Regions from separate parts of the Homo sapiens genome. Here regions 1 and 2 are each linked to region 3. Evidence: fine-mapped expression QTL. A gene starts in region 3. Each other region holds a variant in brackets. All regions are shown on one strand. Distances are between the middles of the regions. Region 1 overlaps LOC107984530 (a long non-coding RNA gene). Region 2 overlaps RAB21 (RAB21, member RAS oncogene family). Region 3 holds the start of RAB21 (RAB21, member RAS oncogene family).

Evidence for each region.
Region 1: its variant is fine-mapped to the expression of RAB21 in whole blood (TOPMed, PIP above 0.99).
Region 2: its variant is fine-mapped to the expression of RAB21 in tibial artery (GTEx, PIP above 0.99). The same link has a PIP of 0.9 or more in aorta, fibroblasts and sigmoid colon.

What each region holds. Positions count from the first base shown.
Region 1 is chr12:71,713,823-71,716,587 of GRCh38, reverse strand. The region is part of intron 1 of LOC107984530 (a long non-coding RNA gene); the gene reads right to left. Among named protein-coding and RNA genes, the nearest start is that of TMEM19, 29 kb to the right of the region's middle. The variant C/T (reference allele first, on the strand shown) is at 1,009.
Region 2 is chr12:71,784,466-71,787,230 of GRCh38, reverse strand. RAB21 (RAB21, member RAS oncogene family) reads right to left here. Exons shown (of 7, transcript NM_014999.4): 7 at 1-1,700. The coding sequence ends at 1,558. Among named protein-coding and RNA genes, the nearest start is that of RAB21, 31 kb to the right of the region's middle. The variant G/A (reference allele first, on the strand shown) is at 1,565.
Region 3 is chr12:71,753,564-71,756,328 of GRCh38, reverse strand. RAB21 (RAB21, member RAS oncogene family) reads right to left here and starts at 1,466. Exons shown (of 7, transcript NM_014999.4): 1 at 1,041-1,466. The coding sequence starts at 1,199. RefSeq lists enhancers at 575-764, 1,405-1,694 and a silencer at 1,145-1,424.

The sequences.
Region 1 (2,765 bases), 40 kb after region 3:
GGTGTATTAGTTTTCTGTGGCTGCTGTAACAAATTACCACAAATTTAGTGGCTGAAAACAACAAAAATTTATTATCTTAGTGTTGTAAGTCAGAATTCCTAAAATCAAGCTGTTAGCAGCACTGTGATCCTTTCTGGAAGCTATAAGGAAGAACACATTTCTTGGCCTTTTCCAGCTTCTAGAGCCCACCCATGTTCCTTGGTTCATAATCTCCTGCCTCCGTCTTCAAAACCAGCATCTCTCTGACTCCTCTGTAGTTGCATCACTTTCTTTGACCATAGTTAGGAAGAGTTCTCTTTTGTATTTACCTATTTTATTTGAATTGTGGTAAAAAAACATAAAATTTACAATCTGAACCATTTTTAATTGCACAGTTCAATAGTGTTAAGTATATTCACATTCCTGTGAAACGGATCTCTAGAAATTTTTCACCCCTCAGTCTGAAACTTTGTACCCATTAAACATCTGTTTTCCCCCTTCCCCTTATCTCCTGGTAACCACCATTCTACTTTCCGTTTCTATGAATTTTAGATACCTCATATAAGCAGAATCATATAGCATTTATCTTTTTGTGACTGGCTTATTTCATTAAGCATAATGTACTCAATGAAGCTTCATCCATGTTGTAGAATGTGACACAATTTCCTTCCTTTTTAAGGCTGAATAATATTTCACTGTATGTATATAACACATTTTATTTATTCATTCATCCATGAGGGACATTTGGGTTGCTTCCATCTCTTGAGGGTAGTGAATAGCAATGCCATGAGCATGGGATTGAGACCCTGCTATCTCTTTGGGACCCTGCTTTCAATTCTTTTGGATATACATCCAGAAGTGGAATCACTAGATCATATGGTAGTTCTATTTTTAATTTTTTGGGGAACCTCTAAACTGTTTTCTATAGTGGTCACACTGTTTCACATCCCAACACAGTGCACAGGTTTCATTTCTCCACATACTTGACCACATTTGTTATTTTCCTTTTTTTTTTTTTTTTTGAGTTGT[C/T]ATCCTAATGGGTGTGGGTGACATCTTTGTGTGGTTTTGATTTGCATTTCTCTAAAAATTAGTGATGTTGAGTGCATTTTCATATGCTTATATATTTGTATATCATCTTTGGAGAAACATCTATTCAAGTTCTGTGCCTATATTTTAATTGGATTTTTTAATTTTTCAGTTGTTGAGTTGTAGTTCTTTATATTCTAAATATTAGCTCCTTATCAGAGATATGATTTGTAATTATTTTCCCCATTCTATACGGTGTCTTTCACTCTGATTGTATTCTTTGATGCACGACAATTTTTAAATTTAAGGTAGTCTCATTTGTCTATTTTTGCTTTTCTTGCCTGTGCTTTTGTTGTCATATCCAAAACATCATTGCAAAGTCAAATGTCATGAAGCTTTCTCCTGTGTTTTCTTCTAGGAGTTTTAAAGTTTTAGATCTTATGTTAATGGGCTTTTTTCTTTTTTTTTCAGATGGGGTCTTGCTCTGTCACCCAGGCTGGAGTGCAGCCAGTGGCACGATCTTGGCTCGCTGCAACCTCTGTTCCTGGACTCAAGAGATCCTTCCATCTCAGTCTTCTGAAGAGCTGGGACCACAGGTGCACGCCATCATGTCCAGCTAATTTTTTGTACTTTTTGTAGAGACAGGGTTTTGTAATGTTTCCCAGGCTGGTCTCAACCTCTTGGACTCAAGCGATCCACCCTTCTTGGCCTCCCAAAGTGCTGGGATTACAGGAGTGAGCCACTGCACTCAGCCAAGATCTTATGTTAATGTCTTTAACCCACTTTGAGTTAATTTTTGTATACAGCGTAAGGTAAGGATCCAATTTCATTCTTTTACATGCAGATACCCAGTATTCCAATATCATTTGTTGAAGAAAGTATCCTTTGGCATTGTCTATTATTGGTACCTTTGTTGAACGTCATTTGCCCATATGTAAGATAATTTATTTCTGGGCTCTCTATTCTATTCCCTTGGTCTATTTGTCTGTCTTTATGACAGAACACATCCGTTTGATTACTGTCTCATTGTAATAATTTTTGAAATAAGAAAATGTGAGTCATCCAATTTTGTTACTCTTTTTCAAAATTGTTTTAGCCATTTAGGGTCCCTTGAGATTCCATATGAATTTTAGGATGAATTTTTCTATTTTGCAACAAATGTCATTGGAATTTTTTTCCTTTTTTTGAGACAGGGTCTTGATGTGTTGCCCCGGCTCGAGTGTAGTGGTGGAATCATGGCTCACTGCAGCCTCAACCTCCCAGGCTCAATAGATCCTCCCAGCTTAGTCTCCTGAGTAGCTGGGGCTACAGGAGTATGCCACCATACCCAGCTAATTTTTGTATTTTTTTGTAGAAATGAGTTTCACCATGTCGCCTATGTTGGTCTCAAACTCCTGGGCTCAAGAGATCCGCCCGCTTTGGCCTCCCAAAGAGCTGGGGTTACAGGTATGAGGCACTGTGTCTGGCCCCCACTGGAATTCTGATAGGGATTGTACTGAATCTGCAGATTGCTTTGGGTAGTATGAACATCTTAACAATATTGTCTTCCAATCCATGAACACAAGATGTCTTTTAATTTATTTGTGTCTTCTCTCAATTCTTTCAGCAATGTTCTATAATTTTCAGCATACAAGTGTTTTACCTCCTTGGTTAGGTTTATTCCTAAGTATTTTATTCTTTTTGATGCTATTGTAAATTGCGTTTTTCTTAATTTCCTTTTCAGATTGTTTATTGATAATGTACAGAAATGCAACTAATTT
Region 2 (2,765 bases), 31 kb before region 3:
ATACACAAATATAATTCTTTAATAAATCTTTCCAGTGTTCACTATATCTGCATTACATGTAATGTTTCCATCCACAGAAACTCAGGATAGTTCTTGTAAAATGAAACAGAACATTCTGTGTTCATCTCTGGCAAGCAATGAACAAATAGAACTTGCTCACAAAGGATCTAAAAGTGCTGCCTCAGGAACATAAACTACGTGCTATATGAATGAGTCTTGGTTAACTGGCTACTATCTGGGATCTCTTCCTCTGCTCATACCACTGAACCCATCTCTTATAAAGCCTATGAGAAAATGAAAGCTATTGCAGAAGTGAAATTCAACATGAGCCACCCAAATTCTTCTAAGGTAACCATTCTAAAGCAAAATCAGCAGAAGTCATCTCTTCTATAATAACAAACAAAAAACCCAAAAGGCAAATGCTACTGCTCAATCATCAGATGAACTCACAGAGGCAAAAATATGTGACAACAGCAATAATTCAAGTAAAGTATGTATGAAAATTTAAACACGCCATGTTCAAGTTAAGACAGAAGTGAAGGGGAGCTATGATCTTTATATTAGTCAAAAAAGCTAGGCATAATCACCAAATGTTAATTCACTTTACAGTCATCAATGAGACTATTGTATATATTTTTGCACCTTGCGCTTGTAAAAGCAGATAAAATATTTAATATGTAATTTACAATGTATTTTACCAGCTCAGCATACAGGATGTATACAGATTATATCAAAGTAGTAGACAGTTACGGGCCTGTGCAAACCCTGCAAAAATAGTACTTCAGATATCTGCTAATTAAAAACAAAAACAGTTTGCTGTTTAGAAGTGATACAATTTCAACTACCACAAAATACAAAGGGCTGCAAAAATGTAACCATTCCAACAACATATATAAGTTATTAAATAAAGATTTGATTTGAAAGAATATAAATGAAGACTTTAAGTAGGTCTTTTCTACATGCATATTATTCCTCATTAAAGAAAAAATATGTAAAAAGGCCATTGGTAATTGCTTTGTTAACATTTGTAGGCCGGGCACGGTGGCTCACGCCTGTAATCCCAGCACTTTGGGAGGCCGAGGCGGGCGGATCACAAGGTCAGGAGATCGAGACCATCCTGGCTAACCTGGTGAAACCCCGTCTCTACTAAAAATACAAAAAATTAGCCGGGCGTCGTGGTGGGCGCCTATAGTCCCAGCTACTCGGGAGGCTGAGGCAGGAGAATGGCGTGAACCTGGGAGGTGGAGCTTGCAGTGAGCCGAGATCAAGCCAGTGCACTCCAGCCTGGGTGACAGAGCGAGACTCCGTCTCAAAAAAAAACAAAAAAAAACAAAAAAAAAACAAAAAAAAACATTTGTAGAAAATGCCAATTCTCTGGTCACAAACTCCACTAAGTTTAGCACTTAAGGTCTCTGCAGTGTTATAAACGTAATTTAAAATACTGTTAATTCTATAATTCCATTGGTAAAATAATGTGACTTGGAATATGGCAGTCTTCATGTTGAGGGCAATGATCCACAGTTTTGTTCTGTCTTTTAATTTCTTAGGCGTGAACAGTTATCCA[G/A]AAGAACAGCACCCTCCACCACTGGTCTGGGCTTGAGGTTCATCATCAATAATCTGTACACCTCGCCTTGCAGTTCCCGGCTGACTAGAGCCATTGCCTTTTGCTCTCTCATCCACTTGTGCTGTTTCTATCATCCCTAAGACAGAGAGAAAGCAAACATTATTAGGACCACAATATTTGTGTTTTCTCTTTCTAAAATTTCAGTATAACACTATGATAGCTATTTCTGACTTTCGACCAACAAAGAAACTAAATATAATGAACATTGGGTCAGCTCACTAAAACAGCTTCACCTGCATGTTTTAAAAAACTAGTGTCAAAAACTAGTATCAAGTAGTAAGCTTATTTATCCAGTGGTATAATGGCCACAGTGATATCAATAAAGAAAAAAATTTTTTTGCTCTGAACAATTGCCTGCGTACAAGTATAATCCTTAAGATTTTCCAAACACACTTAGAAATATGTCAAAGAAGTTCAAATTATTCCAAGTAATATTTAGGGGGCAGGATTTATTCTTCAACTAGAAATGTAATACTTTTAAGTAAATGATTCTTTTTATTTTAGTTTTGAGAGACAGGGTCTCGCTTTGATACCCAGGCTGGATGTGCAGTGGTGTGATCATCACTTACTCACTGCAGCCCCTAACTCCTGGGCTCAGTTGATCCTCCTGCCTCAGTCCCTGAGTAGCTGGAATTACAGGTATGCAACACCATGCCTGGCTGAGTTTTTTTTTTTTGCTAGAGATGGGGGTCTCACTATGTTGCCCAGGCTGGTCTCAAACTCCTGGGCTCAAGTGATCCTATGGCCTTGGCCTCATAAAGCACTGGGCTTATAGGTGTGAGCCACTGTCCCTGACCACAGCGATATTTGAAGAATAATGGAGTTTAAGATGAGGGAACTTCGAAGAACACAGCAGAAAGACTCACACCACCTGATTGCAAGAACTAGTATAAAGCTACACTAATCAAAACAGTGAGACAATGATAGGAGAAATAGATCAGTGGAACCAAAAAAACACAGTCCAGAAATAGACCCCGTAGATATGGTCTCTTGATTTTTGACATGGTTGCCAAGGTTATTCAATGAAGAAAGAATATTTTCAAAAAACAGTAGTATTAATAGAACTGGACATCTATTGTAAAAAAAAAAAATCAACCTTAACCCACACCTTAACATCTTATGCAAAAAACAACGAAAAATG
Region 3 (2,765 bases):
CTGTATATTTATCCTGACAACCCTATGAGCTAGATACTACTATTATGGCCATTTTAACAGAAGAAACAGGCACAGACAGGTTAAGTAACTTACCCAGTATGACACAGCTAGTTAAATGGATGGAGGTGAGACATGAACCTGGACAATCAGGCTCAAAAGTCCACTAGACTTTACTGCCTTTGACCAAATTGGTAAGTCAAATTAGTAGGATAAATTTCTCCTAATAACATCAAAACTGATTTCTCTGGGAGAGGTGGGGTGAGTACAACTCCCTCAAAGGCCTGGCTTCACTCTCAATCAATGATAACATTTTAACACCTTTCCAATGTACCTGTGGAAGAAAGCCGACCTTTTATTTTACAGGTAAAGAAACTGAGTAACAGCAGCGGCTTTTAGTCTGGGGACCAATTGTTGGCCAGTATTCACTTGATGTTTCAGCGTGGGTCAATCGACCTCGCAGAATATGAGTGACCCGCAAGTCAGACCCACGCAGGCTGCAATGAAACTGCGTAACACGCCTAGGCAAGCGGTCATTTCAAAAAACCTCCAGAGATGGCTCTTTTGCCATTCCTGTTACTCAGGACAAAATGGAACTTGCATAAACACTTAGTCATCAGTAAGCGCTGAAGTTACAAATCACCTAATTCGCAAAATCAAATACGCAGCTAAGTTCCTAATTCTGAAAGAAAGAAAAGGAGCTAACATTTGGAGACTGCAACACTGACACCTGGGACCCAGGAACTGCAGTAAATGGGAAAAAACAGCCCACGGACGGAGACCACAACGTGCGCAGCCACCACGGGGAACACTGGGGACTTTTCAGGGCCCTTCCACTTCCCTCCCAACAGCCTGTCCTCGCGTCTACAGGCTGCCCCGACCTGGTGATTCCCCAGGGCGAATTCGGAAAGGTAAACCGAAGGCGGAGATGACAGGCCTGAGATTTGCCAGCCTACATCCAGGGGACCAGGGCGGCAAAGTTTCCCCAGCCCCGGAGGGGTAGGGGCCCTGAGGCGCCCCCTCCCGCTCCCCGAGGTCCGCACCTGCAGAGTGGTGATGTGCTTGTCGTTAAACTTGTTCTCGCAGTAGCGCAGCACCAGCGACGTCTTCCCCACGCAGCCTTCCCCCAGCAGCACCACCTTGAACGAGTAGGCTCGGCCCGCCGCCGCCGCCCCGCCGCCGCCGCCGCCGGCCGCAGCCATCCCGTCGCTTCCCGGCCGCCCGAGCCCGAGTGTCGCGCCGCCCTCCCGACAGCCGCGGCAGCGCCTTCACAGCCACGGCCGGCTCAGCCCCCACCGCCCCGGCCCCGCCGACCCGGGCGCTGTCCCCACGCCCTCCTCGGGCGAGGCCTGGAAGGGCTGAGGGAAAGTCCGAGAATGAAGGGCCCCAGCCCACCACGTCAGGCACCGGAGGAAAAGCGAAGAACGATCCCTCTCTGCCTCCCTCTAATGGCGTCTCCTTCCTCCTACGTCACACCTCGGGTCACGTGAGCGCCGGTGCCGGGGCGGCCCCTGCGACTAGCCCCAGAAGAACGTGCCTGGACGTGGGCGGGGCTTCTGGGGCATCTCCCGGGGTGGAGCTGGATGTGAGTCGAGCGCCTACTGGCAATCTAGGGCAGAGCCCCGCCGCTTGCGAGCCACCTCTGCTTTTCAGTTGGTGGGAGCCAGCGGGAATAAGGAACCAGGAATTTGAGGCGAGCCCAGCTCTGGTGAAATGAAGGGCAGAACTTCATCGTTTTTGCATGTTCACAATGCTAATGATCTGTCACACCAGAGGTCACTGTAAACCATATCTGCCAAGGTGCCCTTGAATCTCTCTCTGTGGGATCCCGAATCATAGCGCTTCCAAGTTCCTCTGACCGCCTGGTCAACTACTCCATCATCTTTCAAGTCTCAGCTTAAACCGCGTCCCTGACCACCCAATCCTTCCCCCATCCTTCCATTCCCCCACCTCACAAAATTAGGTATTTCTTACCACCAGTATACCTCCTTTACTAGGGCTTTACACACTCCATGGATATTATTAATACTTTGCTAAGTGTTTATCGACTCTCATTAGACTATAGGTTTGTTGAGGGCAAGGTCTGTATAAGAGCTGCCCACCTTTGAATTCCTAACCCCAAGTGCTCTTCAGTTTTTCTGACTTTCATGAAGCCTCTGACGTTCCATGGTACTCCACCTTGAGGTGGCTTGTTCGATGATTGCTTGTTTTTTCTCATCTGCATCCCCATTCTTTTTTGTTTGTTTGTATTGTTAGTTTTGAGATGGAGTATCGCTCTGTCGCCCAGACTGGAGTGCAGTGGCGTGATCTCAGCTCACTGCAGTCTCTGCCTCCTGGTTCAAGTGATTCTCCTGCCTCAGCCTCCCGAGAAGCTGGGACCATAGGCGCCCACCACCGCGCCCCGCTACTTTTTGTATTTTTAGTGGAGACAGGGTTTCACCATGTTGGCCAGGCTGGTCTTGAACTCTGACCTCAAGTGATCCACCTGCCTCGGCCTCCCAAAGTGCTGGGATTATAGGTGTGAGCCACCACGCCCGGCCTGCCTCCAAGAAACCATACTCCTCCAAGAAATCATACTAATATTTCTGAAAATTTACTGGAAACCTGGTGTCAGGTAAACATTTTTTTAAAAATCAAACTTCTTTCACACTTCAAACCAGGTTAAAAAAAAAAAAAGAGGCCGGGCGTGGTGGCTCATGCCTGTAATCCCAGCACTTTGGGAGGCCGAGGCGGGCGGATCACAAGGTCAGGAGATCGAGACCATCCTG